3 separate regions of the Homo sapiens genome follow, and all the other regions are linked to region 1. The links come from fine-mapping of genetic effects on gene expression. A gene starts in region 1. Each other region holds a variant in brackets. All regions are shown on one strand. Distances are from middle to middle.

Region 1 (10,921 bases):
GTGGAAGTCCCTGTTGCCCATGAATAACCTCCATCCCTGCCACCATGGCCACTTTGTTCACGGGTCCACTGGATGATGACAGGGGTGGTTGGGGAAAGAGGCTGAGTGGTGTCCACAGAACGAGTCATCCTATCCACTTGATTATTAAAATCCTCCTCTGCTAAGGTCACCCGTTGGTTAGCACTTCACAGTTTTTGAGCATTCAGAGAGGTCCATCTACATACCTCTTCCCCAAATTTTATTGTCACCAATTTTCCAATCTTGCTTCTTCCAAGTCCCTGACCATCCAGCCAAATCACTGGCTACCGCCCATGAATTAGTGTATAATCATACATCTGGCCATTTCTCCTTCCATGCAAAGTGCACATCCAGGTGCACTGCTGGAAGTTCTGCCCACTGGGAAGATTTCCCTTTATTGCTGGCCTGCAGGGATGTCCTAGAAAGGGGCTGTAGTGCTGCAGCTGTCCACTTTCAGATGATGCCTGCGTATCATGCAAAACCATCTGTGAACCGGGCCCTAGTCTTCTCTTCCTCTGTCAACTGATCATGTCAACTGATCATGATCATAGGGAACTCCCCATGAGGCCACTGGTGCAGGCTAGGGCAAAGAAGGCAGGGTGGCACGAGCGGAGACCATGAGCATTTGAGCCACTTCCTCATGTAACTTATTCCTCAGGTGCCTTCAGGACCTGCTAGAGCCCAATCATGCATATAACACTTCCACTTGATGATGGAATACTGCTGTGCACGACCCACTTTATGGCTAGATGGGTCAGAAAGCATCCAGTTCATGATAGGCAGTTCAGGTCACATGGTGACTTAATGACCCATAGTCAAACGTTCAGTTTCCACCAAAGCCCAGTAACAGGCTAAGAGCTGTCTCTCAAAAGGAGAGTAGTTATCTGCAGAAGAAGGCAGGGTCTTGCTCCAAAATCCTAGAGGCCTCCACTGTGATTCATTTATGGTGGCCTGGCAAAGGCTCCAAATAGCATCCCTATCTGCCACTCATCCCTCAAGCACTATTGGATCTGCTGGGTCATATGGCCCAAGTGGCAGAACAGCTTGCACAGCAGCCTGGACCTGTTGCAGAGCCTTCTCCTGTTCTGGACCCTACTTCTGGTACCAAAATCCGTATTAGTCAGGGTTCTCTAGAGGATATATATATATATATATATATCCTATTACTTCCTTATATACGTGTGTGTGTGTGTGTGTGTGTGTGTGTGTGTGTGTGTAGGGGAGTTTATTAAGTTTTTTTTTTTTTTTTTTTTGAGAAAGAGTCTCGGTCTGTCACCAGGCTGGAGTGCAGTGGCGTGGTCTCCGCTCACTGCAACCTCCGCCTCCCAGGTTCAAGCGATTCTCCTGCCTTAGCCTCCCGAGTAGCTGGGACTACAGGTGTGTGCTACCACGCCCAGCTACTTTTTGTATTTTTAGTAGAGATGGGGTTTCACCACGTTGGCCAGGATGGTCTCCATCTCTTGACCTTGTGATCCGCCTGCCTCGGCCTCCCAAAGTGCTGGGATTACAGGCATAAGCCACCGCGCCCAGCCTATTAAGTATTAACTCACATGATCACAAGGTCCCATAATAGGCCATCTGCAAGCTGAGGTGCAAGGAGAGCCAGTCCAAGTCCCGAAACTGAACCTGGAGTCTGATGTTGGAGGGCAAGAAGGGGATAAACGCACAGGAGAAGGATGTAGGCTGGGAGGCTAGGCCAGTCTCATCTTTTCAGGTTTTTCTGCCTGTCTTATATTCACTGGCAGCTGATTAGATGGTACCCACTCAGATTAAGGGTGGGTCTGCCCTTCCCAGCCCACTGACTCAAATGTTAATGTCCTTTGGCAATACCCTCACAGATACACCCAAGACCAATACTTTGCATCCTTCAATACCATCAAGTTGACACTCAGTATTAACCATCACAAGCCCTATGAAATAAAAAGTTTTATGACCCCTTTCTTCCCAGAATTATGAATGCCAATTTACTTGCTCTACATTTACGCAACTTCCATGACCTGGGGTAGGTAGGTATGCAATGTTGTGTTACTTCCCCATTGTCCATATCCACTTGTGTCCCTGGCCATGGCCAACTAATTTACAGGTTGAAACATTTCCCAGCACCTTGGAAGGCTGTGTGGTGGGAGGATTGCTTGAGGTGAGGAGTTCAAGACCAACCTGGGCAACATAGTGAGACCCCTGTGTCTATAAAAAGTAAAATTAGCCAGGTGTGGTGGCACATGCCCGTGGTCCTGGCTACTTGGGTGGCTGAGCCCAGGAGGTTGAGGCTACAGTGAGCCATGATCATGCTGCTACACTCCAGCCTGGGTGACAGAGCAAGATCTTATCTCAAAAAAACAAAACAAAACGAAACACATTGTACTAGACTGTCTTAGTATTTGAAGCTTGAACAGATACACAGAAAAGACAGGGAAGCCACCTACAATGCATTCTAGAAAGATCATGCTGCTGAGGATCATGGAAGCACCTTAGTTCCCATTGTCAAGCTTAGTTGTTCAGCTCTTCCTTAAGTTATATAAACTATCCCAGAATTCTTCTAAATTCTCCAACCCCTTTAATTTGGTTTAAATTAGCCAAATTACATTAATGTTGCATATAACCAAAACTTAAGGGATATAAATTGGTTGGGAGAATGTGTTGTAACCAGTAGTCTGTCAGGAAACTGTTGCATTTTTAGGTAGTTTTATCAAGCTGAGAAGGGGTGAAATGAGTGAGACTTACCTGACTTTCAAGACATCTATTTTTCAAACCATTTGTTTTCACTTCTTTACTGTGTTATCACCATCCTCCCAGGACTTTACACCAGAAATCTGAAGGTCACCACTGATACCATCTTCCCCCTTTGCTCCTACATCTAATCATTAGTTACATCTGCCAGGTTCCATATCTTGAGTATGTCTTTTCATTTCTACTATTACTGCCTTAGTTCAGGTTACTACTTTTCTTACACATTACATTACTATGGGCTTTTAAATGGCTTCTGTGCCTTTATCTACTCACAAACTATTCTTCATGCTGCAGTCAGAAGTGTTCTAAGCCAAAATTATTCACCTTCCAAAATGAAGATCTAATTATGTTCACAAGTCCTCTCCTTCACCCATTCCTCACCTCTAGCATTAATCTAACACTAGGTTAATCAAGGTAATGGGGTAGAAGGTCATGGGTAACTCCAAATCACACTTTAAATGAACTCTAGTCAAAGTACTGAATACAATGGATTTAAACTTGCTTGGTAAAACTACCTCTAATAATTTAGGAATATATTTGCCTTCTGTGAAAGCCATCGCAAAGTATAAAAATAGTGTAAGTACAGGTATTTAGGCTCACAAAATATCGTTATGACTGAAAAATTGGCAAAGGTTTTTTGTTTGCTTTGCCTCTTCGTTGAGCTCTCTTTCCGTAACAAATGGAAATAGAAGCACACAAATTCAAGAAAGGAGGCTCTAACAGACTGAAGATATTGTGGCTTTCAAAAAGGAGAGAACATTTTAGATGATATGAAGGAAATGTCACCCCGTTACTAAGAATTCACTCTATTCGACAGATATATACACGCTTCAGCAAGTGCTCCTAAGGATGAGAGGAGAGTAAGTTATTTTCATCTAACAGTCTCTATCAACACTCTTCTTAAAACACCTAATGCTTAACAACAGTCTAAAGAACACACTGGCTACTCATACCTCCCATAGGCAGAGACCTTGTCCTTTTTGAGCTGCTGTATCTCAGGTAATCAGCAATCACTTAGTGGATGATAATAATTTGCAAATTCCTCTGGAGCCTCTAAAGACCGTATCATGAATCATCAATTCAAATGCCTACAGGAGTCGGGCAGGTGATATGCAGGAGGAAATAGAGTCATTTAGGGCCCATAACAAAGGGGAGAGAGGCCGGGCGCGGAGGCTCACGCCTGTAATCCCAGCACTTTGGAAGGCCGAGGCGGGCCAATCATTTGAGGTCAGGAGCTCGAGACCAGCCAGCCCAACATGGCGAAACCCCGTCTCTACTAAAAACACAAAAAAATTAGCCAGGCGTGGTGATGCATGCCTGTAGTCCCAGCTACTCCGGAGGCTGAGGGAGGAGAATCACTTGAACCCGGGAGGCGGAGGTTACAATGAGCCGAGATCCGCGCCACTGCACTTCAGCGTGGGCGACAGCGAGACTCCGTCTCAAAAAACAAAACAAAAACAAAGGAGAGAGTACATAAGCCATCTCCAGGCTAGTTTCTTTAACTAGTCTTCATATAATAATCTCCTCAAGGTCCTGTTCTATCCCTACAAAATACAAAACAGTTCCTCGTGTCTTCCTTCAAATATACTACAGTCTTTAGCTCATCAGAGTAGCTGAGTTAGTCCAAGGCATAATCCCAAAAGCGAAACTGAATGTCAGAATTGATCTCATTTCAACACTCATTCCAGAAGTAGAAACTTCTGCAAGTTCAGCTTTTGACTATGAATTCTTCAGCGCGACTTTTGCAGAGAGCTCTGTTCCAAGAAGCTGGCGCCTTAACACAAGCTATCTACCGATGCACAAGGGAAGGCTGGCTTGGGTCCAGATTCGGCGGGAGAGTGGAAACGCGACGCTGGCCGACTTCAGCCACAAAGGCAATTTCTGCCCAGGGCTAGCGTTCCTAAGAGGGGGCCGAGAGAACGCCAGGCTCGGGCGTAGGGGCAAGAAGACCCAGAGCTAACGCACCTCTCGGAGGGCCCAAGCTCAGGGCTCAGTCACCCTCCCAGCTCGGAGCCGGCGCTGGAACACAGCGGCGCGAGGAGAAACCCCTAGAGACAGGGAAAAGGTGGACGTAGCGGCTGACGCTGCCCAGACGCTAGGCGCCGACAGGAGCCTGATTGTCACCGTACGACCAGTGAGGGGGCGGGGCGGAGCTGTGCCTCAAAGCGCCTGCGCGGAGAGCCTGCAATCAGGGACCAGGCTTGGGAGGCGACGAAGAGGAACGCTGGGCGCAGGAGGCCCACTGCATACGCAGGCGCACTCGGCGATCCCGGCTTTTCCGCGCGCAGTTCCCGCACAGGCATCGGGGGGGGCAGGGGCGGGGCAGGGGCGGGGATAAATGCGGAGGGACGGTCCAGCTTTAGCTCTCTGCTCGCCGCCGCCGCTGTCGCCGCCACCTCCTCTGATCTACGAAAGTCATGTTACCCAACACCGGGTAAGGGGGTAGGGGCGGCGCGGGGAGAGACCCTGTCGGGCGAAGGGCGCGTCTCGGTGGGGCCGCCGCGGATCGCCCGGGCTGGCCGGCCCGGCTGTGGGAGGTCAAGGATACTGCCTGGGCACGCTCTGAGCTCTGGTCCGCGCTGGGCACTGTGCACCGAGAATCTGCGGTAACGTGTGAAAAGGAACACAAACTTTTGTATTACAGGATGGCAGCAGTGTAGAAACCTTTTCCACGGGTAAAGGGCCGAGGGGGAGTCACCACGCCGCCCCCAGTGCCGGCCCTCCCTGAGTTTAGCAGGAGTGCGTGCCTGGCCGAATGCGTGTGAGTTCTAGGTGAAAGGTCGCAGGAGCAGCTCCAGAGTTTAAAGAGTTTTCACTTGTTCCTGACGCTCAATTCTAGAGTAATAATGGAGTGTTTAAAAAATGATTTCCAAATTAGAAACTAAACCGATCTTAAAACATGGGTATCTTTGGGGGATTTTTTTTTCACCTTAAAAAATTGTGTTAAAATACGTACAAAATCTGCCATCTTAACCGTTTTTTAAGTGTACACTTCAGTAGTGTTAAGTAGATTCATATCGTTGTGCAGTCAATCTCCAGAACTTTTTTCATCTGCAAGCTGAAACTCTATCCATGAAACAACTCCTCTTCCCCACCTCCGCTCGTACATTGGCAACCACCATTCTACTTTCTGGTTTATGTAAGGTCTGGGTATCTTGAGTTGAGTGACGTGTTGTCAGATTTTGTAATTTGCCTGAAACATGCAGGCATATAGCCAAAGACTTAAAACAGTTCAAAGAGTATAGGGTAAAAAGTGAGTCTCCCCATCCCTAAAATCTAGTTCCCCAGTTACTTACGTTTCTATTTCGTGCATGTATGAACATAATTTGTATACATCCGGATACACACACACACACACACACACACACACATACCCTTTCTTAAAAATAGCAGCAGACTCTATTCTTGGTCTTGCTACTTTTAGTTGGTATGTCTTGGGACATTCTTTCTTTGTTTTTTTTAAAGACGGGGTCTCCCATGTTGCCCAGACTGGCCTGTAGCCTTGAACTCCCAGGCTGATGTTCCTCCCTTCTTAGCCTCTGGAGTATTTAGGATTACAGGCATGCACCGCTGTGCCCAGGGACATACATTTTTAGTACATGGCAGATCTTCCGCCTCCTTTTTTTTTCTTTTGAGATGGAGTCTCGCTCTGTCTTCCAGTCTGGAGTGCAGTGGCATGATCTCGGCTCACTGCAGCCTCCGCCTCCCGCAATTCTCCTGCCTCAGCCTCCCGAGTAGCTGGGACTTCAGGCGCGTGCCACCACGCCCTGTTGATTTTTTTGTATTTTTAGTACAGACGGGGTTTCACCATGTTAGCCAGGATGGTCTCAATCTCATGACCTCGTGATCCGTCTGCCTCGGCCTCCCAAAGTGCTGGGATTACAGGCGTAAGCCACTGCGCCTGGCCCCTCCTCCTTTTTAATGGTTGCATAATATTCTGTAACAGCTTGAGTATCCATTATCCAAAATGCTTGGTTCCAGACGTGTTCGGATTTCAGATTTTCAGATTTGGTTTGCTCAACCTGTATATGAATATACCTTTGTTTATTTAACCTGTTCCCTATTGTTGGATACTAGACTGTTTCCAGTTTTTTGGATACTCTTTTTTTGCTTCCATAATTATACTTGTATTTATCTATTTGCACATATATAAGTGTATATGTAGGATAAACTCCTGGAAGTGAAATTGCTGGATCAAAGAGTAAATGTGGCTGGGCACAGTGGCTCACGCCTGTAGTCCCAGCACTTTGGGAGGCCGAGGCGGGCGGATCACTGGAGGTCAAGAGTTCGAGACCAGCCTGGCCAACGTGGTGAAACTCCGTCTCCACTAAAACTACAAAATTACAAAAATTACAAATACAAAAATTAGCTGGACCTGGTAGCGGGCACCTGTAATCCCAGCTACTCAGGAGGCTGAGGCAGGAGAACCGCTTGAACCTGGAGGCGGAGGTGGCAGTGAGCCGAGATCATGCCACTGCCCTGCCCTCCACCCTGCGAGAGAGAGTGAGAGTCTGTCTCAAAAAGAAAAAAGAGGAAATGCACTTTATATTTTGACAGATATTTCCAGATGACCCCCCAGAAGGGTTGCACACCCAAAAGGATAAATGAGATCCTCTAATCCCACTTGTTGGCTAACCGCAAAATAGTTAATGATGAAAATCTAATTAGAGAAAAAAGTGTCACCTCATTATTGTTAAAATTTGCATTTATTTTATCACAAGTGTGGATTTGGATCTCTTTGTGTATTTAAACCAGGGACAATTTGATCCCCAGAGGACATTTGGTAATATCTCAAGACATTTTTGATAGTCACAATTGAATGGAGATGCTAATGGCATCTCGTGAGTAGAGTACAGGGATGCTGGTGCACATCCTACAATTCACAAGCATTCCGTACAACAAAGAATTATGTAGTCCAAAAGGTCAGTAGTGCAGAGGTTGAGAAACCCTGGTTTAAAGCCATCTATGTATCTTTATATTTGTCTGGCTTAACAAATGAGGTTTTTCGTTAATCTCTGAGGGCTCTGTGTATTTTAAAAATTTGTCTTTTATCACATTACAAATATTTTCCACAGTTTTTCATGTTGCATCTGGACTTTGATTATACTGTTTATTTAACATGGAGAAACATGTTTTTGTGAAGCCAGAGTTATCAGTCTCTTAAGGCTTTTGCATTTTTGAGTTAAACCAAGATCTTTTTTTTTTTTTTTGAGATGGAGTCTTGCTCTGTAAGCCTTTGAGTTAAACCGAGATCTTTCTTTCTGTCTTTCTTTTTTTTGAGATGGAATCTTGCTCTGTATGCCTTTGAGTTAAACCGAGATCTTTCTTTCTGTCTTTCTTTTTTTGAGATGGAATCTTGCTCTGTTGCCCAGGCTTGAGTGCAGTGGTGCGATCTCGTTTCACTGCAACCTCTGCCTCCCAGGTTTAAGTGGTTCTCCTGCCTTAGCCTCACAAGTAGCTGGGATTACAGGCGCACACCACCATGCCGGCTAATTTTTGTAATTTTAGTAGAGATGGAGTTTCACCATGTTGGCCAGGCTGGTCTCAAACTCCTGACCTCAAGTAATCCTCCTGACTCGGCATCCCAACATGCTGGGATTACAGGTGTGAGCCACCGTGCCTGGGCAGATCTTTTTATAATTAGTTTTCTTCTGATATTTTTATGGTCTTATATTTTTGTATTTTTCAAATATATTTGTATTGTCTATATTTTTTATAGTCAGATTTTTTTATCCCCCTGAGATTTCTTTCAGGAAGTGAGTTAGGAAGCCCACTTGATTTTTCTTCAGATGGCTGCTCATTTGTCCTAGCAGCATTGACCTAAGAGTTAATCTTTTCTCTTCTGCTCGAAATTCTACCTCTGTTGTATATTAAATTCTTGCACATATAGCGCTCTGTTTCTGGACTTTCTGCTCTGCTACTTTAGTCTCTATTCATGTACCAGTACCAGACTGTTTACTTAATTAATTAATTGAGACAGGGCCTCGCTCTGTCACCCAGGCTGGGGTGCATTGGCACCATCATAGTTCACTGCAGCCTTGATCTCCTGGGGTTAAGCAGTCCTCCCAGCTCATCTTCCCAATTAGGTGGGACTATAGACATGCGCCATAATGCCTGGCTATTTTTAAAAAATTTTTTTGTAGAGGAGTCTCACTTTGTTGCCCAGGCTGGTCTCAAACTCCTGGGCTCAAGTGATCCTCCTGCCTCAGCCCCCGAAGTGCTAGGATTACAGATGTGAGCCACTCTACCCAGCCCAAACTATTTTAATTGCTCTAGTTTTACAAAATGTTTTAATATGTGGGAAAGCTAGTTCCCACCACATTTGGATTATTTTTCAGAATTTTCCTGGTTATACTTGGGTATTTATTTTTCCAAATGAAGTTTAGAATAATTTGTATAGTTTTTTGGAAACAGTTGTTCTTCCTTTTACTAAAAATTTCAGTACTTTTACCTGATTTTGGGGTACCAGAGAATTTTAGTAAATTAAACTGTAAGTTAGCTCTTCATCAGCAAGTTTTAGCCATCTATCAATAATACTAAGAAATTTGGAGCCTTCTTTGAAGTGCTCTTGCCTTCTATATTCTGGTACTAATGCTTTGGAGCTGGAGGACTTCTTACTGGCACAGATCAGGGTTATGTTTGCTTTTTTTTCTGCCAATGCCAGAGACTCTGAGTGAGGAAGAAAATGCCCTTTCTCCTACTGGGAATCAATCAAGCTATACTCAAAGCAAAGAGATATGGCTTTTTTTTACAGCAATAGTTGGGACATTTTCTTGTAAATACTTACATTAAAAATCACTTTAGCCTGTGGTCCCAGCTACTTGGGAAGCTGAGGTGAATCACTTGAGCCCAGGAGGTTGACGCTGCCATGAGCTGTTGAGGCTGTTGTGGTAAACTGAGGACCAGAGAGACCGATATTGGGAAGACAGGAGGATGTTTATTTAAGGTACTCACCGGCTCAGTGGATTCACATCCAAAAAGCTGAGCCTTGAACAAAAACAGAGTTTAGCTTATATAGGCCAGCATACAAGATCAAAACAAAGGCAGTAAATTTTACAGTGACAAATCACGTAATCCATAGCATAACTGCTGACCTGGCACTAACCTGTGGCCTTGCATAGCTAGTGGCCTAGCAGCTGCATCGAAAGAAAAACAGGAACTTTGCAAATCTTACTAAATACAAGCATTGGCAAACATAGTCATAACTAATAGTACAAGAGAGACAGTAAAGGAAATTGTTTTTCGTCTTTTAACCTTGCTCAGGGGTGTCTGGAGTTCATTTCTGCAGGCTAGGTCACCACGACCTGTCTACAGCCTTGCTTGCAGTAGTGAAAAACTTGTGCAAGACTGTCAAAAGAAAAACACAACAACAACAACAACAGAACCACTTTAATATTTTATGTATACTACCTTTTGTATGAAAAAAGGAAGGGATAGTTTTTCACATACATAGAGTGTTTTATATATATATATGTTTGCTTATGTTTGAAAAAAGTACAAAAATGATAGGCCAGAAATTAATGAAGCTGGTCACCTATAGGTAAGAGATCAGACTTCTTTTTTAAAAGTTTTTAAGTTTTATTTATTTATTTATTTTTTTGAGATGGAGTCTTGCTCTGTCGCCCAGGATGGAGTGCAGTGGCGCGATCTAGGCTCACTGCAACCTCTGCCTCTTGGGTTCAAGCGATTCTCCTGCCTCAGCGTCCAGAGTAGCTGGAATTACAGGCATGCACCACCACACCTGGCTAATTTTTTTTTTTTTTGACAGAATCTTGCACTGTCGCCCAGGCTGGAGTGCAGTGGCGCGATCTCAGCTCACTGCAGCCTCCACTTCCAGGGTTCAAGCAATTCTGCTTCAGCCTCCCGAGTAGCTGAGATTACAGGCACCTGCCACCACGCCTGGCCGATTTTTTTTTTTTTGTATTTTTAGTAGAGATGGAGTTTCACCATGTTGGTCAGGCTGGTCTCAAACTCCTGACCTTGTGATCCGCCCACCTCAGCCTCCCAAAGTGCTCGGATTACAGGCGTAAGCCACTGTGCCTGGCCAATTTTTGTATTTTTTAGTAGAGACGGGGTTTCACCATGTTGGCCAGGCTGGTCTTGAGCTGACTTCAGGTGATCTGCCCACCTCGGCCTCCCAAAGAGCTGGGATTACAGGTGTTAGGCACCATGCCCG
Region 2 (10,921 bases), 24 kb after region 1:
GATGTCCATATTTTCCATAGGTACCTGAACTCCTCCCTGTTTTAACAGGAGTTTAATATAGCAGAGATAAGCATAATGCTTAGACTTCGTGTGACCCATAGTTACCCCGGACAATACACAGACAACTCACCAATTGTCAGGGAGCCGAACAAGCGTTTCTGTGAACCGGACCAATGAACGTTTCTATGCACGTACCAAAAGGAATCGGGTTCCCACATGCACTTAGGAAAAAGCCACTTGGCATGCCAGATATTGGGGGAACCTACCCCTAATATTTCAATGTAGGTTCTTTCTATTTTCTGTGTCAGCTAGCTGAGAAATAAAGAGAGACAGTACAAAGAGAGGAATTTTACAGCTGGGCTGCCGGGGGTGACATCACATATCGGTAGGACCGTGATGCCCACCTGAGTCTCAGACCAGCAAGGTTTTATTAAAGGTTTCAAAAGGGGAGGGGGTGTAAGAACAGGGAGTAGGTACAAAGATCACATGCTTCAAAGGGCAAAAAGCAGAACTACTAATAAGGGTCTAACAAAGATTACAGGGCAAAGGGCAAAAACAGAACCACTGATAAGGATCTATGTTCAGTGGTGCACGTATTGTCTTGATAAACATCTTAAACAACAGAAAACAGGGTTCGAGAGCAGAGAACCAGTTGGACCACAAATTTACCAGGGTGGAGTTTTTCCCCACCCTAGTAAGCCTGAGGGCACTGCAGGAGACCAGAGCGTATCTCACTCCTTATCTCAACTGCATAAGACAGACGTTCCCAGAGTGGCCGTTTATAGACCTCCCCCCAGGAATGCATTCCTTTCCCAGGGTATTAATATTAATATTCCTCGCTAGGAAAAGAATTTAGCAATATCTCGCCTACTTGGACATCCGTTTATAGGCTCTCTGCAAGAAGAAAAATATGGCTCTTTTTGCCCGATGCCGCAGGCAGTCAGACCTTATGGTTGTCTTCCCTTGTTCCCTAAAAATCACTGTTATTCTGTTCTTTTTCAAGGTGCACTGATTTCATATTGTTCAAACACACATGTTTTACAATCAGTTTGTACAGTTAACACAATTATCACAGTGGTCCTGAGGTGACGTACATCCTCAGCTTACGAAGATAACAGGATTAAGAGATTAAAGTAAAGACAGGCATAAGAAATTATAAAAGTATTATTTGGGAACTGATAAATATCCATGAAATTTTCACAATTTATGTTCCTCTTCCGCGGCTCCAGCTGGTCCCTCCGTTCGGGGTCCCTGACTTCCCGCAACAAGAAGGAACACAAGCGACCATTAACATGGGAACAAAAATATATTCCACCTCATTAGTAACTGGGGAAGTGCAAATGAAAATCACCTTGGGATATCATTTCATAATACTGAATTGGTGAAAAAACTTTAAGGTCAGAAATTACCAAGTGTTGGGGAGGTGGTGGAGCTACGGGAACTCTTATACTCATTCACTGCTGCTGGTAAGGATATTATCCTCTTTGGGCAGGGCATGGTGGCTCACACCTGTAATCCCAACACTTTGGGAGGCCGAGGTGGGCAGATCATGAGGTCAAGAGATCAAGACCATCCTGGCCAACATGGTGAAACCCCATCTCTACTAAAAATACAAAAATTGGCTGGGCGTGGTGGCGCATGCCTGTAGTCCCAGCTACTTGGGAGGCTGAGTCAGGAGAATCGCTTGAACCTGGGAGGCGGAGGTTGCAGTGAGCCAAGATCGTGCCACTGCACTCCATCCTGGTGACAGAGTGAGACTCCGTCTCAAACAAAACAAAACAAACAGAACCACAAACTGGATGGCTTAAAACAAATGGATGCTCTCACTGTTCTGTAAGCTAGAATTCTGAAATCAAGATGTCAGCAGGGCTGTGCTGTTGTAGTTCTGGGTAGAATCCTTCCTTGCTTCTTCCCAGCTTCTGGGGGTGGCCAGCAATCCTTGTGTTCAGGGCTTGCAGCTGCATCCCTCCAGGCTCTCTGCCTTTGTCATCACACATTCTCCATGTGGCTGTCTTTACATAGTCTTCCTTCTTCTTAGAAGGACACCTGTCCGATTGGAGTAAGGGCCTACTCCAATATGACTTCATGTTAACTAATTACATCTTCAGCAATCCTGGTTCCAACTGAGGTCACCTTCTGAAGTTAGGACTTCCACATGCTTTTTGGGGGACACAATTCAATCAATAACAGGGAGATAAGGCCGGGGTTATCTTCCTGTTATTGATTGATAACATCCCTTGCTGTTATCTTAATTTTATTCTTTTATTCTTTTTTAATGAGTTTACCAGGAAGTTATTTTAGATGTCTCCTTCTTACTTAGCAAGTGAGTAAGTAAAAAGTTTAAATGAACTTAATTTAATGCTAATAATCCCAGCACTTTGGGAAGCCAAGGCAGGAGGATCGCTTGAGCCCAGTTCAAGACCAACCTGGGTGACATAGTGAGACCTTGTTTCTACAAAAAATTAAAACTTTTTCAGGTGTGGTAGTGCACGCCTGTAGTCCTAGCTACTTGAGTGGTGAGGCAGAAAGATCACTTAAGTCCAGAGGCAGAGGTTGCAGTGAGCCACACTCCAGACTGGGCGACAGAGCAAGAACCGCTCTCAAAAAAAAAAAAAAAAAAAAAAAAAAAGTAGCAGAGAGCTAATGTTTTACCTAATTGGGATTCAAAATTAGCATTCCTTGTCATCGAATTGATCACAAATACTCATCTGTAACAATCAATCTTAGCTCCAGGGCCACACACAGACAGGTGGTGGGTCAGATTTGGCCTGGGGCCATAGTTTGCAGACTGTTGATTTAGACTCAGAGACCTAGGTACTAGGAATAATGAAAAAACAAGGGAGTGCATAACATTTAAGGTAGTTTTCGTTCTGTGGGGTGGGGGAGGGAAGGAGGATAGAGTTGGAGAGGAATATACAGGCTGGTTTCTGGGGTATTGGTAATATTCTATTTCTTGCCTTGATACTACTGTTCATTTTAATTTTGTTCATTAAACAATACACATTGTTTTACATGCTTTTTATATGTGTGCTATATTTCATGAAAAATAATTTCAACCTCTCTGACTTCTCCCCACTTCTCCACTCTCCCTCCTTCTTACCAAACAAATTATTCCTTATTTTAAAACCGCTTCCCACTTTTACCTCTGATCTCTTTCTTCTGGAGTGTAATCCTCTGGGTCGTGCAAGAGTTTTATGTTCCTTTATTAACAAACCTGTTAATCTATCACCAATCTCAGGTCATCCCTTTTTCTTTGTCATTGTCACTTTTGCTCTTCTTTCTCCATTCTTTTCCTTAAGCAGACTTTTAAATTTGCCCTTAGAAAGTAAATAAGAAAGCGGGTTTCCCTTGCTGTTATCTTTATTTTATTCTTTTAGTTTTTCTTTTATGAGTTTACTAGGAAATTATTTTAGGTGTCTCCGTTTCACTTAGCCACTGAGTAAGCAGAAAGTTTAAGTGAACTTAATGAAATGGGGGGAGGCCAGGGTGGGAGGATCACATAAGGCCAAGAGTTTGAGACCTGCCTGGGTAACATACCAAGACCCTGTCTGTACAAACAATTTTAAAAAGTAACTGGGTATGGTGGTGTGTGCCTGTAGTCCCAGCTACTTGTGAGGCTGAGATGGGAAGATCATTTAAGCCCAGGAGTTCAAGGCTGCAGTGAGCCATGATTGCGCCACTGTACTCCAGCCTGGGTAACAGAGCTGTCTTAAAAAAAAAAAAAAGCACGTAGGAGTTCAAGGCCAGCCTGAGTAAGATGGTGAGACCCCATCTCCATTTAAAAAAAGCAAAAAACAGGCTAGCCGGGCGCGGTGGCTCATGCCTGTAATCCCAGCACTTTGGGAGGCCAAGGCGGGTGGATCACGAGGTCAGGAGTTCGAGACCAGCCTGGCCAACATGGTGAAATCACGTCTCTGCTAAAAATACAAAAATTAGCTGGGCGTGGTGGCCCACGCCTGTAGTCCCAGCTACTTGGGAGGCTGAAGCAGGAGAATTGTTTGAGGCTGAAGCAGGAGAATTGCTTGAACCCGGGAGGCAGAGGTTGAGTGAGCTGAGATTGCACCACCGTACTCCAGCCTGGGCGACAGAGCGAGACTGTGTCTCAAAAGAAAAAAAAACACACACACACACACAAAACACACACACACAAAGAATGAAATGGGCACAGGGACCCATCAGTACATTTGAATCAGAATATTTCAGATCAACCTGCAGCAATTTGTGAGCGTTTGTTTATTTAACAGCTCTTTTGAGATGTGATTCACGTACCCCACTATGCAGTCATTTAAAATACGCAATTCATTGGCTTTTAATATATTCACAGAGTTGTGCCACCATCACCACAGTCAATTTTAAAACCTTTAATCATCCTAGAAGGAAACCCCTCAACCCTCCGTTGTCAGCCTCCAATCCCTCCCACTCCCAGCTCTAGGTAACCTCTGATCTTTCTGTCTCTATAGGTTTGCCTATTCTGGACATTTCATATAAATGGCATCATATGTGGTCCTTCATGACTGGTTTCTTCCTCTTAGCAGAATGTTTTTGGTTCATCCATGTTGTAGCTCATAGCAGTACTTTATTGCGGAACATTATTTCATTGTATGCGTGGCTACACCACATTCTGCTTATCCGTTCATCAGCTGATGGACGTTTGAGTTGTTTCCACCTTGGCTATTATGAGCATTCATTGAACAATTATTTGCTTTTAGGTAATTTATTTTAAGTGGTATGTAGTCATTGTGGAAACTTTGAAAAATATTAAAGAATATAAAGGATGTGATAAAATTTGCTCATAATCCCACCACTCAAAAAAAAAAAGCTTTATTAACACGTTTTCTGTGGGGAAAAAAATGCATGTTTATATAATTTGTTTTATAAT[T/G]CTTTATTTCTCTTGAAGATTTGCTTTGCATTTGAACAGATTTTGTTTGCTAAATCACAGCAAGACTGGCCAACTGCAGTTGTCATAAATAATTTATCAGTCATTGTGCAATGGGAGTATAGTGGAGTTATCTGCCATCAGATGGGCATGGGGAGGGTTTAGAGAAAATTTCACAGAGGAGGAAACATATATTATGAAAATATGCATGAGGTTCTGATACCTGTCAGTAAATAAAACATTGGGTCTTCTAATAAGGTCGTATTTGTTCTGTTGTAGGAGGCTGGCAGGATGTACAGTTTTTATCACAGGTGCAAGCCGTGGCATTGGCAAAGCTATTGCATTGAAAGCAGCAAAGGATGGAGCAAATATTGTTATTGCTGCAAAGACCGCCCAGCCACATCCAAAACTTCTAGGCACAATCTATACTGCTGCTGAAGAAAGTGAGTGTGACAGTGCCATTTGATAAAATGTCTTTCTAGTGGTTTCAATACATAGAGAATTTGCTGGAGAGTTTAGTTAAAGCTATTTGAAAGCTACCCTGAACATAATTTTATCTAGTGAAAGAAGTATTTATGTTGTCACCTTGGGGCAGTGCTTCTGACCGTTTTTCTCCACCAGCACTTTTAAGCAATGTGAGAAACTCCAGTTAAAAATCTTATTTCATGGCGGGGCGTGGTGACTCACACCTGTAATTTCACCCAGCTACTCGGGAGGCTGAGGCAGGAGAATCACTTGAACCTGGGAGGTGGAGGTTGCAGTGAGCCAAGATCATGCCACAGCACTCCAGCTTGGGTGACAGAGCGAGACTCCATCTCTTAAAAAAAAAAAAATCTTGGTTCTTGAGGGCAGTGGTTCTTGGATGGGAGGGGGAGTAGGGAAGTGGAGTAGAGAGGAGAGAATTTGATTGGTGAGTGGCATGAACTCTTTGAGAAAGCGTTCTGTGTTATTTATTCTCTGTACAATTTGCAAGTCATCATTTTAATACTTTTAGTTGACAAATAATTATCACATACTTCTATTTAAGGCATAGCGCTAGGCACAGAGCCAGGAGAGAGGGCTTAAAAATTCAAGTTCAGTTGACATTGCTAGTTTTGTTAATCATGTTCAGAGCACTGTGGTTATGTTAGAGGAATGCATGTGAAGTGTTTATGAGTGAAATGATGTCAGGGATTTGCTTTAAAACACACCAGCAAAAAATAAAACAGGGGACAGGAAAGATAAACATATTAACTGACAAAACTAACAATCGTTGAAGATAGGTGATGGATTCCTGTTAGTTTATTACAGCATCTTTACATTTTTATATAGTTTAGAATATTTCCACAATAAAAAGTTTTTAAAAATTACTTTCAACTGGGTGAGGTGGCTCAAGCCTGTAATCCCAGCACTTTGGGAGGCCAAGGCGGGTGGATCACTTGAGGTCAGGAGTGCGAGACCAGCCTGACCAACATGGCAAAACCGTGTCTCTACAAAAAATAGAAAAATTAGCCTGGCGTGGTGGTGCATGCCTATAGTCCCAGCTACTTGGGAAGCTGAGGTGGGAGGATCCTTTGAGCCTGGGAGATTGAGGCTGCAGTGAGCTGTGTTTGTGCCACTTCACCCAAGCCTGGGCAAGAGAGTGAGACCCTGTCTGAAAAACAAAAACAAACAAACAAAAAACTTCCTTTTTTTAGCTTTTTAAAAAAATTACAAAGAAACCCCCACCAAACCTTCGTTTTTGTTTTTTAATAGTGTTAGCCTAGCTAGTCTGTCCTGCTATATGGTAGAGTCACTGGTGGTAAGATAGAGTTATTTATATTGATTTTCTGAAAACAGGGTACTTTTTTCTTTTGACTGTGATATTGGAATTAAAGGTATAATATTTAAATGCTTTAACGCTTTTTCATTTTGTATCCTTTATATAAGTTGAAGCAGTTGGAGGAAAGGCCTTGCCATGTATTGTTGATGTGAGAGATGAACAGCAGATCAGTGCTGCAGTGGAGAAAGCCATCAAGAAATTTGGAGGTAATACCTTCATTCTGAAAAAATTATTGGATATTGGTAAAATAAAGGTATAACTATAATGTTAATTTAAAAATTTGTTTTGAGTTTTGAATTTTCTGAGTCTTTGGAGAAATACGTATTTGCTCACACAGAACATGATTTAAAACCATCTGATAAGGCTGGGCGTGGTGGCTCACACCTGTAATCCCAGCACTTTGGGAGGCCGAGGCAGGCAGATCACTTGAGGTCAGGAGTTTAAGACCAGCCTGGCCAACATGGTGAAACCCCGTCTCTACTAAAAATACAAAAATTAGCTGAACATGGTGGTGGATGCCTGTAATCCCAGCTACTCAGGAGGCTGAGGTGGAAGAATTGCTTGAACCTGGGAGGTGGAGGTTGCAGTGAGCTGAGATTGCACCACTGCATTCCAGCCTGGGTGACAGAGCAAGACTCTGTCTCAAAAAGAAAAAAAAAAAAAAGAAAAAGAGTGTGGAATGATAGACTGTGGAGACTGGGAAGAAAGAAGGGATGCAAGGGGGGTAGATGAAGAGAAATTACTTAATCGGTACAATGTTTGCTGTTTGGGTGATGGATACCCTAAAAGTCCTGGACACTGCACAATCTATGTATGTGAGAAAATTGCACTTGTGCCTTATATATTTGTTTTTGAAAAAATTCTTCCTTTATGTGGTTAAATTTCATCTTCTTCACAAAGTCAGTTCCCTCACCATGCCAACTAATCAGAATTATATTTTTCTTTCTCTGATTTCTTTTTTCTTTTTTTTTGAGACTGAGTCTTGCTCTTGTCACCCAGGCTGGAGTGCAGTGGCGCAATCTCGGCTCACTGCAACCTCTGCCTCCTGGGTTCAAGCGATTCTCCTGCCTCAGCCTCCCGAGTAGCTGGGATTACAGGCGCCTGCCACCATGCCCAGCTAATTTTTGTATATTTAGTAGAGACAGGTTTCGCCACATTGGCCAGGCTGGTCTCGAACTCCTGACTTCATGATCCACCCAACTCAGCCTCCCAAAGTGCTGGGATTACAGGCGTGAGCCACCGTGCCCGGCCTCTCTGATTTCTTAAAACATTCATTTGATCCTTATCTTGTACTATTTTAGATCTTAGTATTTCTTTTCTCCCCAATTAGTTCAAAAGTTCCTAGAAAAAAGGTGTTGGGGATTGAGCTAAGGCTTTCATGGTATTATAGTAGGGCACCTAGGCATGTCCAAATCCTGCCTAAACCATTACCACTCTCCCCGCTAATGTTCTGGAGGACCATATGTACATGTGAGGGACAATGGCCAGTGGAAAATGAGGGAATGCTTCAGTGTTAGCAAGGCTGTACTTATAATCCCAATGCAGAGTGCTGTGGGGTGCTGGACTGAAGCACGGAGCTTTGGCTCAAGTGGAGCCTCTTCCCTTAAATCCAAAATCTTACCCCTAGCCGGCAGCCTTTCCCAAAGAAATGTGAATGCCTGTGTCAGAAGAGGAGAGAAAATGCAAAATGATGTTTGTCCAACTGATAGGGCGCTAAATGTGAAATGTGCCACGCTCAAATGCAGGATATTTTATCTAAAATGACTTCACCTAGTAGTAAAAGTGGTTAACTAGTGCCACTTAGGATTTGATGTAATTAGTTTATCCACTAATTTTTGGAGAGGACGTAAGGGGAGAAAGCTGAAGCTTTTCATTCTCCCATATTCATTCAGTTTTAGTTCTTTTTTTTTTCTTCTTTGAAACAGGGTCTCACTCTGTCACCCAGACTGGTATGTAGTGGCATGATCGTGGCTCACCACAGCTTTGGCCTCCTGGGCTCAGGTGATCCTCCAACCCCAGCCTCCCAAGAAGCTGGGACTATAGGTGCCCACCACCAGGCCTAGCTAATTTTTGTGTTTTTAGTAGAGATGGGGTTTCACCATGTTGGCCAGGCTGGTCTCAAACTCCTGACCTCAAGGGATCCACCCACCTCAACTTCTCAAAGTGCTGGGGTTACAAGCATGAGCCACTGTCCCCAGCCTTGAATTTATTATTTAATTTTTTAAAATTGTGGTAAAATACACATAACATAAAATTTACCATCCTATTTTTAAGTGTACAGTTCAGTGACATTGAAGTTTATTATATTGTTACACAACCATCATTAAGTACACTTCACAAAGAATAATGAAGACCAGGTAGAAACAAAGAAAAAATGTTTGACATAGTTTTTGTATTTTTACCATTTTCCTTTAATGTTATTTCACTAAGCATATAACTATAAGCAAAACTTGTTGGTTATAGGTAGAAACTAGATAGAATTTGCAGAAATAGTAGTTACTCTAGGTTTATTTTTTGTGTGTGTGTATGAGTCACTAAAACAAAATTGATCCACTTTGATGATCTGCCTGGGATTGAAACAGTAGGTCTTTCTCTTTTCCCAGTTCTCAAGACCAGAAAGGAGCCTTTCCCTTTAAGTGAGGGGCCTTGGGGGAAGGGAGACTACTATGCTTGGAGGGAGGACAGGCCTTTGAAACTTCATGCTAGAGAGGAAGAAAGACTTTAAGGAATTTGATCCAAGGTTTATGGAGACAGGGAGGGACAACCAGGAGGTAAGAGAACAGTTAAGAGTGGAAGCTACAAACCACCGAAGACTAAGCCTCCTTGTAGTTTCACATGGAGCTCTGGCAATTGGCTATATCTCCACTGTGCTAGTGACAATCATGCAGGTGCTATTTTGAAATAGCTACCAGTCTTGCATTGGTAGTGGTTAGTCATATTATCTAAAGGAAGTATAGCCATGCATTGCTTAATGATGGGGATATGTTCTGAGAAAGGCATTATTAGGTGATTTTATGATCGTATGAACATAGAGTATACTTACACAAACATAGATAGTCTAGCTGACCACATACCTAGGCTGTATGGCATAGCCTATTGCTTCCAGGCTGTAAAGCTGTATAACATGTTACTGTACTGACTACTGTAGGCGTTTGTAACACAACAGTAAGTATGTATCTGAACAAACTTAGACAGAAAAGAGATAAAATAAAAAAACAGTATTGTAATCTTAAGGGACCATGTTGCGTATATGGGCCATTGTTGATTGAAATGTTAGGTGTGGTACATGACTGTATTTGTGAATCAACTGAGGGTTCAAGAGAGTAAACGCTTTTTTTGTGTGTGATAAAAAGTCTTTCATTAAAATGAAATTGATTATTTTGAAAACAGGAATTGATATTCTGGTAAATAATGCCAGTGCCATTAGTTTGACCAATACATTGGACACACCTACCAAGAGATTGGATCTGATGATGAACGTGAACACCAGAGGCACCTACCTTGCGTAAGTTTGCAAGAAGAGTTGTTGGGGAGGAAGTTGCGGTGTTTCTCAGGGAACTTACATAGTTGTAAACAGATTTGAGCCAAATTAACAGTGTAGTTCAAAATCTAGTCAATCCTTATAAGGGTCTAAAAGTCCTTCATTCAGTCAATAGTATTTTATTTTATTTTTTATTTATTTATTTTTTTGAGATGGAGTTTCATTCTTGTTGCCCAGGCTGGAGTGCAGTGGCACGATCTCAGCTCACTGCAACCTTTGCCTCCTAGGTTCAAGCGATTCTCCTGCCTCAGCCTCCTGAGTAGCTGGGATTACAGGCGCCCACCACCATGCCCAGTTGATTTTTTGTATTTTTAGTAGAGACAGGGTTTTACCATGTTGGCCAGGCTGGTCTCAAACTCCTTACCTCAGGTGATCCACCCACCTTGGCCTCCCAAAGTGCTGGGATTACAGGCATGAGCCACCATGCCCAGCCCGATAGTATTTTAAATAGCTTTATTTGGAGCTCCTTTTCTCTATGAATTTAGGAAAGACTAAAGTAGGCTGAGTGCAGTGGCTCACACCTGTAATTTCAGCACTTTGGGTGAGGGGAGTATTATTGGAGGCCAGGAGATTGAGACTGAGATGCACAAGATGGCAAGACGCTGTCTCTACAAAAAAAAGTTTTTAAAATCAGGCAGGCATAGTGGTTTGTGTGCTACTGAGACTGTGGTGGTGGTCTCATCTACTCAGGAGACTGAGGCAA
Region 3 (10,921 bases), 39 kb after region 1:
AAGAGGCAAAGGCAGAGGAGAACAAAGGAAGGAGGAGGTAACTTGTGGAATGCTGAGAACGGTAAAAACACCTTCAAATAAGGAAGAGGAACAGGCTATGACCTAATGCTTGCTTGGACCAGTATATGCATGCCAGGGCAAATATTTAGGCTAAATTGTGGGAGCTAAGAACTTAAAGTACATTGATTTCTTTATCATGGCTAGCAGATATTTAAGAATGTTAGTACGGGTCTTTGAATACATTTTGCTTCTAAGAGAAGTTACTATTTATTCCTAATTAGACAGGGAGGAAAGTCTTTGAAGAGGAACCTCTAGTTTTTACACCAACTCACTTTATTCATTTACTCAAATGCCTTACAGGTCTTTGAGTTTGAAACCCCAAGTAAGTAAAATAATTCATGAAAGGTAATAAAAACAGAGTCTGGCACATAGTTAGGTTTTCAGTAAACGTAACTATTTTATTCGGCTGAAGGTATCAGTATCTAAGTGTGGTGCTAAGAGTTTTCAATATAATATATAAGAGGGCATGCTACTGTGACAGATGCACCTGATGTAGGATTAGCAATGTTGAGGTCCAGGCCAGCAAAGTGCAGATGGAAAGGTCTTGTCCCATAGATCAAAGGAAAGCCCATGTTTAGAATGTAAATGAAATGAGCTCTTTCCTTTGAGTGTAAAATATGGTCTTATTTACTGGAGTAGATTTAGTTTGTTTCTTCTTGATGCTTCGAGTTGCAGTTTCACTGTTTTAATGAAACTCAGCTGTAATATTGTTTGCCCCACCTCACCTCACCTCCATAAAAGTGAAGCACCTTTGGAAATGAAAACAGTATCTACCAAAACCCCTCTAGTGGTATTGATTATATTTGGTAAGCTTGGTAAGATGTTGCTGTTTTTAACACCAGTATTGTACATTTGGTAATTAAAAAACTGACTTGAAAGAAGAATGAACTAGTTCATTCACAGCTCCTGGTTCAGGGTAAAGAAAAAAAAAAGAATGGACAAGTTCAGAGTCCTAGAAGTCCTAGAAGTCATTGAATGTAAACGAAAGCTAAATTTGTAGCTAAAATAAAGCTATAAATTAAGCTATAATATATTATTTAGCTGCTGACATTATGTAAAAATTAACATTTTAGAAATATTGAATCTGAATCTTAAATAAATTACCTACCTTAATGAGTGACTTTTTAAAAATAAAGCTATGTATTGCACCCAAAGGCATATTTTATATTGGTGAAAATTAAATTTGGGAATGTAATGAGAGTTATATTACTAAATTACAGTTCCAATGTAGTAGAAGTACTATGCCTATTAAGATGAAATAAATCAGCATACATAATACTAACAACAGCGATTGTTTATTTCATGTTTAGTATATACATTGTCCTAAGTATCTCATATATATCATCTAATTTTAATCTCTTGGTCAATCATAGAAGGTAGTGACTTTTACCAACATTTGCAGAGGAGAGAACTGAGCATTAGAATGCTATACAATTTTCCCAGGGTCACACAATGAAGGGGCAGAAGCAGAATTTGAACCCTGGTCTGTCTGACTTGAACACTCATGTTATTTACCACTGTGCTGACCGACAAGTATATTAACTATCTCTGAAAATTACATATGTGTGTTAGGGAGGCAGAATTTGGGATGGTTGTGGTTGCGGATAACCTCAGTTGGGCTTAAGGCTAGTATATCAAGGATTTGTTTTTTTCCATCAAGCAGATCATGTTGCCAGGCCATTAAGCAGAATTTCAAAGGATGAAAATTAGTTGCTTTTTCTGTCTTAATTCTAGAAAGCAAACAAAAGTACCCTATGAACAAAACAAACAAACAGTTCCCTACAGATTTCTGAGCAAGTTCAGTTACTCTGTAGGAGTAGTTTAAAATGTATCTTGGCGGAGCGTGGGTGGATCACGAGGTCAGGAGTCGAGACCATCCTGGCTAACACGGTGAAACCCCGTCTCTACTAAAAATACAAAACATTAGCCGGACGTGGTGGCGGGCGCCTTGTAGTCCCAGCTACTCAGGAGACTGAAGCAGGAGAATGGCATGAACCCGGGAGGCGGAGCTTGCAGTGAGCGATTGTGCCACTTCACTCCAGCCTGGGCAACAGAGCCAGACTCCGTCTCAAAAAAAAAAAAAAAGTGGATTGGCCCGGCATGATGGCTCACACTTGTAATCCTAGTACTTTGGGAGGCTGAGGCGGGTAGATCGCTTGAGTCCAGGAGTTTGAGACACGCCTGCGCCACATAGCAAGACCCTGTTTCTAAAAAAAGAAAAAAAAAATTACAAAAACTATCCAGGTAGCTGGGCATGCTGGCACATGCCTGTAGTCCCAGCTACTCAGGAGGCTGAGGTGAGAGGACCACTTGAGCTGGGGAGGCAGAGGCTACAATGAGATGTGATCATGCCACTGCACTCCAGCCTGGCAACAGAGAGACCCTGTCTTAAAATTAAAAAAAAAAACAAACAAAAAAAAAGAAGTTGGCTGGTCGCAGTGGTTCACACCTGTAAACCTATAATCCTGGCACTTCGGGAGTCTGAGGTAGGAGGAGTGCTTGAGTCCAAGGGGTTCAAGACCAGCCTGGGCAACAAAGCTAGACCCTGTCTCTAAAAAAAAAAAAAAAAGTACAGAAATTAGCTGGGCATGGTGGTGCTGCACACCTGTAGTTCCAGCTACTCGGAAAACTGAGGTGGGAGGATTGCTTGAGCCCAGGAGCCCAGGAGCTCAAGGCTTTAGTGAACTGTGATCGAGTCATGCACTCCAGCCTGGGCAACAGAGCAAGGCCCCCTCTCTTAAAAAAAAAAGTGGAGAAATTGTTAGAAAGCTATTAAATTTGGCTTGTATTTTCTTTTGCTTTCAGATCTAAAGCATGTATTCCTTATTTGAAAAAGAGCAAAGTTGCTCATATCCTCAATATCAGTCCACCACTGAACCTAAATCCAGTTTGGTTCAAACAGCACTGTGGTAGGTGGTAGGTGGTAGGGTGAGGGGATGGTTTGTGCTTAATTTGTTTTGAATTAAATCTGTGTATGTCTGATGTAATCACAATCTGCACATAACATTCATCATTGAATTTTCTATGCCAAGTCATTAAGTGGCATTTGGAAAGTAGATTCTTCATCTTTTATCTGTAATTTAAAAAATTGAGGCATAATTGACATTCAATAAAATGCACAGCTCTTAATGGTTCAGTTTGATGAGTTTTGAGAAATGTATATAACCAACACCCAAATCAAGATACAGATTTTTACCATTTCAGAAAGCTCTTTCATTTCCCAATGAGTGTGTTTTACTGTGTGTAATTTATTCATCTATAAAGTTGGTTAAAAACTATCTATGAGATACTTTATTTTTCTTAGACAGGTATGCACCTGTAGTCCTAGCTACTTGAAAGGCTGAGGTGGGAGGATCGCTTGAGCCCAGGAGTTTGAGGCTGCAGTGAGCTAGGATCATGGCACTGCACTCCTGCCTGGGTGACAGAGCGAGACCCTGACTCTAAAAAAAAAAAAAAAAAACGACAAAAAAACCCTATTACCTTTCATAGCAAACTAATGGTTTAAGGTAAATATGCTAAGTAACAAGATTTACATATAGATGCCTCCTTTAAAATAGTTGTATCAAACACTTAGTTTTTATTTCAGCACAGTTCACTAACATTTGGAAAGGCACTTGGAATGGGAACCCACAGAGCAAAACTGAAAGAAGTTCCACTTTAATTGACTAGGTTAAATACATTTGCAGCCTTTTTTTATTATTGTTTTACTAGCAGTAGTTTCCCTTTAAATAAACACTTTCATTCTTAAAAAAAAAAAAAAGTCCAGGCATGGTGGCTCATATCTGTAATCCCAGCACTTTGGGAAGCCGAGACAGGCAGATCACTTGAGGTCAGGAGTTTGAGACCAGCCTGGCCAACATAGTGAAACTCCATCTCTACTAAAAATACAAAAATTAGCTGGGCATGGTGGTGCACACCTGTAATCCCAGCTACTCGGAGGATGAGGCACAAGAATCACTTGAACCTGGGAGGTGGAGTTTGCAGTGAGCCAAGATTGCACCACTGTGCTCCAGCCTGGGCAACAGAGTGAAACTGTATCTCAAAAAAAGAAACATATTAAGAGATAATAATGTAATTTACCCTCATAGTATTAAGAAAAATGAAAGTTTATTACTGTCACTTTTATTTTAATCAAATATTAGGAGGGAGATATATAAAATGATTTCATCTCTGTTCACTTCTATAAAACCTGTTCTTTACAAAATAGTACAGTGAAAAGTTATATTTTATATTATTGAAAAGAATTCTCAAAAATATATCAGGGAGGCTGGGTACGGTGGCTCGTACCTGTAATCCCAGCACTTTGGGAGGCTAAGGCAGGTGGATTGCTTGAGCCCAGGAGTTCAAGACCAGGCTGGGCAACGTGCAAAACCCTGTCTCTACAAAAAAATTGAAAAATTAGCCAGGCTTGGTGGCACACACCCATAGTCCCAGCTACTCGGGAGGCTGAGGTGGGAGGGTTGCTTGAGCCCAGGAGGTAGAGGCTGCAGTGAATCGTAATCACACCACTGCACTCCAGCCTGTCTCAAAAAAAAAAAAAAAGTATGTGTATATATATGTATATATGTATGTGTGTGTATATATGTGTGTATTACTATTTTCTTCCTGATATATATGTGTGCGTGGGTGTGTTGTATGTATATGCATATATATACACATGTATATGTATATACACACAGATATATACACATACATATGTATATACATACATGCACACATATATCAGGAAGAAAATAGTAATAGAAAAATTGGTTATTTCTACTCACAAGTTAATCAAATTAATTTCTTTTATAATTAAATTATTATTTTTTGTGGTTCTTTCAGCTTATACCATTGCTAAGTATGGTATGTCTATGTATGTGCTTGGAATGGCAGAAGAATTTAAAGGTGAAATTGCAGTCAATGCATTATGGCCTAAAACAGGTATGTATTTTTAAAAACTTCATTTGTTAGATTTTCATGTATTGTCCTTGACACTTATTATTATTTTTTGACAGAATCTCACTCTTGTCATCCAGGCTGGAGTGCAGTGGTGTGATCTTGGCTCACTGCAACCTCTGCCTCCTGGGTTCAAGCAGTTCTTGTGCCTCAGCCTCCCAAGCAGCTGGGACTATAGGTGCACACCACCATGCCTGGCTAATTTTTGTATTTTTAGTAGAGACAGGGTTTCACCATGTTGGCCAGGCTGGTCTCGAACTCCTCAAGTGATCCTCCCACCTTGGCCTCCCAAAGTGCTGGGATTACAAGCATGAGCCACCACGCCCGGCCTGTCCTTGACACTCTTGAGGTGCATCTTGGGTATGATAGGGTGAGAGTATGTAGACTGTTAATACTAACTTCAATCTGTTTGTTGGGAAACAAGTTCAACTTTTTATTGTACAACATAAGATCCTTTTCAATCATCTTCCTGCCTTGGCTTAGACTACATGAGTGACTCTTCAGCCAATAGCCTTTGTAGGAACATTGACCACCGGAACACTTTAAGAATCTTTTGAAGGCCAACAGGAGAAGCTGCACTTCCCCAACTCTTTCTCCATCTTTGTTTCTGGAAACTACCTAAATTCTGCAGATTCTCATACTTTTGTTTTCTCCTCACACATTCTAACAAATGCTTTTTAACATTTTTGTATTCTTACTGGCCTTGTCTTTTTCCTTTAGAAAAAGCTGGATTATCTTTCCTTTCACATGAATTCTTCTGAATTCACAGAGTACCTGGAACCCTGTGAGATGACAGAAGAACCTGTGTATGCCTGGGCTTGGTGTGCAAATTTACAGTTATGATATAACAGAAGTTGATGGCTTCCTTGCTGGGCAATAAGATATATAAAAATGAGGGAAAGCCAGCAAAAATGAGAAAAAAGGAAAGCCTGTCTTTCTTATAGGTTCTTACCCTCTGCTTGTATATCAGAGTAGCTTAAAGGAAGAAAAAGAGA[C/T]GATAACATTTCACTACACATTTTTCCATGTACTAGTGGGTAATGCCCATGAAAACCTTAACTTCTTTTTATCTTAAGTGTAAATGGTGCCGGGTGTGGTTACAGATGGCTCATGCCATCCCAACACTTTGGGAGGCCAGGATGGGCAGATCACTTGAGGCCAGGAGTTTGAGACAAGCCTGGGTAGCATGGCAAAACCCCGTGTCTACTAAAAATAGGATAAATTAGCCAGTTACTTGGGAGGCTGAGGCATGAGAATCACTTGAACTTTGGAAGCAGAGGTTGCAGTGAACCCAGATTGGACCACTGCACTCCATCCTGGGTAACAGAGCAAGACCCTGTCTCAACAACAGCAACAAAATATGTAAATGGCAATCACATCGCAGAAAAGTATGTCTAATGATAAACAGTATGCAGAGGGACTGGGTGTGGTGCCTCACTCCTGTAATCCTAGCACTTTGGGAGGCTGAGATTGGATGGGAGGATTACTTGAGGCTAGGAGTTTGAAACCAGCCTGGGCAACATAGTGAGGCCTCTTAAAAAAAAAAACACACACAAAAAAAACCTAGCTAGGTGTAGTGGTGCACACCTATGGCCCCAGCTGAGATGGGAGGATCACTTAAGTCCGGGGGTTGAAGGCTGCAGTGAGCCATGGTCATGCTGTTGCACTTCAGCCTCAGCGACAGAGTGAGACCCTGTCTCAACTAACCCACTTCCCCTTTGTCCCGAGAATACTCTTGTCTCTAATTCTAATGTAACATCATATACATTTCTGTTACATTAGGGTTTTCCCATTTGTCCCGAGAATACTCGTCTCTAATTCTAATGTAACATCATATACATTTCTGTTACATTAGGGTTAGAGACAAGTTCTGTTTAGAAATAACTCAATAACTTTTATGTTTTCACATTGAAAATCAGTCAGATTTGCTTCAGCCTCAACGTGTGTGTTTATGTAAAATTAAATGAGCGCTGGTAATTTTTTTTTTTCCTAAACAGGAAGTGGGTTAAAAAACAAACAAAAAAAGAGAATGCATAGTGGGAACCACTTTTTCATTTCACTCTTTAAAAATGTAACAGGCCAGTTGCAGTGGCTCGTGCTTGTAATCCCAACACTTTGAGAAGCAGAGGCAGGAGGATCTCTTGAGCCCAGGAGTTCAAGACCAGCCTAGGCAACATAGTGAGACCCCATCTCTACAAAAAATTAAGTTAGCTGGGCACAGTGGAGCATGCCTGTGGTCACAGCTTCTCGTGAGGCTAAGATTGTAGGATTGCTTGAGCCCTGGAGATTAAGGCTGTAGTGAGCCGTGATCATGCCACTGTACTCTAGCCTTTTGAGACAGGACAGAGTGAGATCCTGTCTCAAAAAAACAAACAAACAAAAATTGAACAGAAACTTGATTATACTCACATTGGAATTTAAACAGAAAATCAACATGGCCCCTCTACGAGGAACCACCTTAGGAATCAATACTGGTGTTTCTGCTCCTAGGGTAGTGCTCTGCCCGTAATAGTCACTCAGATCTTTGTAAATGCATGATATTTTTGGATTCCTTTGGAAAGTCTTCATATTCTTCATTACATTTAAAAAAAAATTTTTGTAGTTTTTTTTAGTGGAAAGGGGGTTTAGCCATGTTGGCCAGGCTGGTCTTGAACTTCTTGCCTCAAGTGATATATCCTCCTCGGCCTCCCAAAGTGCTGGGATTACAGGCATGAGCCACTGCACCGGCCTTATTACATTTTTGAAAACATTTCTACTGATGGCAAATTGGAATCTTTTTCACTGAATTTGCCGGCAGAGGGGGTTTCTAGATGACTACTGGAATTCATGTCCCTGCCGTCCCTCCCTTTCCCCTGATTGGAGCAGCTGCTAGGACGGTGGGCAGGTGAGCCTATGAAGGAATGAGTAAGACTTGATTCTGTAAGAGAAGGAACTTGAGAAGCTTGTGAAAGACTGTTCTCTCTGAGCTAGAGGACAGAATGGAGCCAGGTGAGAGAACTTGAGAAAGAACAGATACTCAGAAGGGCTTTGACCACGGAGATCTGAGGATTCAACAGGGTGACTCAACAGGCAAGATAAGTATTTCCTATCCTTGAGGAGTGGAAGTGAGGAGACCTCAGAGACTTCTTCAAGTCCCAAAATAGATTCAGTGACTGGTATATCTGATATGATAACTTACTACTGCTGGCAAAGCTGGCATCATTTAAACTATCCCGGGCGACAGAGTGAGACTGTCTCAAAAAACAAACAAACAAACGAACTATATAAGGGTGAACAGTGCTATAAGGAAACAAAGAAAAATTGCAGTACAGCTAAGAGGACCCAATATCCAGACATGGAAAAAATAAACAGAACACCAACACCCAGAATAGCAGTTTTCAGTGAAATCAAACTGTTAAAGAAAAAATATCTCAATTTAAAAACAAAAATCCTGACATAAGAGATTGAAATATAATATGAAAAATGCTCTCTGGAACTAAAAATAGATTGTGTTTTTAAAATATACATATATATGTATGTAATAGTTGAAGGGTTGGATGTTGAGTAACACCTGGGTAAGCAGCTTGGATATTCTAGTGCAAGAAGTATCTCAGAAGAGCAGAAACACCCTGAAGTAAATGGAGAGAGACTTAGAAGACACATCCGGGGAACTTCACATGCAAATACCAGGAGTCCCAGAAGGAGGTCTGGAAAGAGAACAAATAGAGGAGAAACAATAATTGAATGAATAATAGGAAACAGTTCCCTTGAGCTGAAGAAAGACCGATATGGATGTAAACTAAAAGGTTTACCAAATTTGAGGCTGAATTTATGAGGGGGAGAAAGACATCTGGGAGAACCTCAGAATTTCAAGGATAAAAAAATCTTCCAAGCCTTCAGGCAGAATATATGTTACTTACAAAGGAAAATGATTGCAGACTCTTTTATCTTCAATGCCAGAAACTAGAAGGCAGTGGAATAACATCTGTACGTTGCTGATACAAAGGGACTCAGCCAAGATAGTTACTTATTGACAAGATGAAGGGAAGATATGTGGATATGCTACCACACTTGAGAAGAGTCTTGTAGAAAGGGCTGTTAACCAAGCAGCAAATCTGTCAGAACAGAGAGTTTTCAAGATAGGAGTCAGAAAAAAGAGGAGAGAAAATAATGGCTGGCAAATAAACCTGTAGTACATTTAATATATGGTCAAATGTACATGGATTATATAGAATAACTGGGAATATGAAATACAAGTACCAAATAACAACTCCCTATATTGAAGAGACAAGATAAGAGAAAAGTTTAATAATTGTCTCTAGCCAAAAGCACTACACTGTCTTCAAAACCTGGAATTTGGGGAAGAGGGAAATGTGGAAGTCATTGAATTCTTTTCTTTTCTTTTTTTTGAGACGGAGTTTCGTTCTTGTCGCCCAGGCTGGAGAGCAGTGGCATAATCTCGGCTCACTGCAACCTCTGCCTCCTGAGTAGCTGGGTTTACAGGCGTTTGCCACCATGCCCAGCAAATTTTTGTATTTTTAGTAGAGAGGGGGTTTCACCATGTTGGCCAGGCAGGTCCCAAACTCCTGACCTCAGGGATCCACCTGCCTCGGCCTCCCAAAGTGCTGGGATTACAGGTGTGAGCCACTGCCCCAGGCCAGAAGTCCCTGAATTCTAAAGGACTTATATGAGCATGGGAACATTAGGGAAGGGAACACTTTCTAACCGTCTCGTTTTGAGGCAGCTACAATTCTAGATGGTATCTTTGTTGTTGTTTGTTTTTTGAGACAGAGTCTCACTCTGTCGCCCAGGCTGGAGTGCAGTGGCACAATTAGCTCACTGCAACCTCTGCCTCTGAGGCTCAAGCGATTCTTGTGCCTCAGCCTCCCGAATGGCTGGGATTACAGGCACTCGCCCCCACGCCCAGCTAATTTTTATATTTTTAGTAGAGACAGGGTTTCACTATGTTGGCCAGGCTGGTCTCGAACTCCTGACCTCAGATGATCCTCCTGCCTTGGCCTCCCAAAGTGCTGGGATTACAAGCGTGAGCCACCACACCTGGCCTAGATGGTATCTTTTAAAAAAATTAGACTGGGCGCAGTGGCTCACGCCTGTAATCCCAGCACTTTAGGAGGCTGAGGTGGGCGGATCACGAGGTCAGGAGATTGAGACCGTCCTGGCTAACATGGTGAAACCCTGTCTCTACTAAAAATACAGAAAAATTAGCCGGGCATAGTGGCGGGCGCCTGTAATCCCAGCTACTTGGGAGGCTGAGGCAGGAGAATGGCATGAACCTGGGAGGCAGAGCTTGCAGTGAGCCGAGATCGTGCCACTGCACTCCAGCCGGGGCGACAGAGCGAGATTCCATCTCAAAAAAAAAAAAAAAATTATATTTTCTGTTTGGTGCTAGGGTGTATAGAAATGTTTTTGCATTTAAACATTATAGGCAGCTACCTTTCTAAACTTTCTTGTTGAGTCTAATAATTTATCTAGAGTCTCCTGGATTTTCTGTGCAGGTAATAATATAATCTATAATAATATTCCAATTCTTACATCCTTGGTTTCCTTTTTCTTGCTTTACTGCACTCTCCTCTCTCTTCCTCTCTAGCCTTCACCAGTAGTTTTCTCTTGACTTATTGAGAGCCCAGCAATGCTTTTAAGAAATGTTTATTGCTTATTTATAGTTTTATTGTAATAAGACAGCCCTTTAGAGTATATAAGTCACCATATAGTTGATCCATGAACAATGTGGTGTTAGGGATGCTGGCTCCTAGCAGTGAAAAAAAGAAAACATATTTCCAAAAGCAGAAGACTAGTCCCATCCATTTTTAATTAAATATATTACTAGATATTTTATATTTATATTTTTTCAATATATTTTCTAATTTGTTAAAGTATATATTAACATAAAAACTATATACCTTTATTACAAATATACTAGTAAACT

Evidence for each region. PIP is the estimated chance that this variant, and not a neighbour inherited with it, causes the effect. A credible set is the group of variants that fine-mapping cannot tell apart.
Region 2: its variant is the best candidate, but not a certain one, in a credible set for the expression of HSDL2 in whole blood (TOPMed, PIP 0.61).
Region 3: its variant is the best candidate, but not a certain one, in a credible set for the expression of HSDL2 in whole blood (TOPMed, PIP 0.77).

The regions. Positions count from the first base shown.
Region 1 is chr9:112,375,002-112,385,922 of GRCh38, forward strand. HSDL2 (hydroxysteroid dehydrogenase like 2) reads left to right here and starts at 5,107. Exons shown (of 11, transcript NM_032303.5): 1 at 5,107-5,179. The coding sequence starts at 5,163. It also overlaps a transcript of PTBP3 not described here. RefSeq lists enhancers at 4,291-4,340, 4,441-4,690, 4,690-5,289, 4,721-4,840 and a silencer at 5,061-5,310.
Region 2 is chr9:112,398,840-112,409,760 of GRCh38, forward strand. HSDL2 (hydroxysteroid dehydrogenase like 2) reads left to right here. Exons shown (of 11, transcript NM_032303.5): 2 at 5,156-5,319; 3 at 6,785-6,883; 4 at 10,068-10,182. Among named protein-coding and RNA genes, the nearest start is that of HSDL2, 24 kb to the left of the region's middle. The variant T/G (reference allele first, on the strand shown) is at 4,880.
Region 3 is chr9:112,413,976-112,424,896 of GRCh38, forward strand. It overlaps HSDL2 (hydroxysteroid dehydrogenase like 2), which reads left to right. Exons shown (of 11, transcript NM_032303.5): 5 at 2,866-2,969; 6 at 4,885-4,983. Among named protein-coding and RNA genes, the nearest start is that of HSDL2, 39 kb to the left of the region's middle. The variant C/T (reference allele first, on the strand shown) is at 5,994.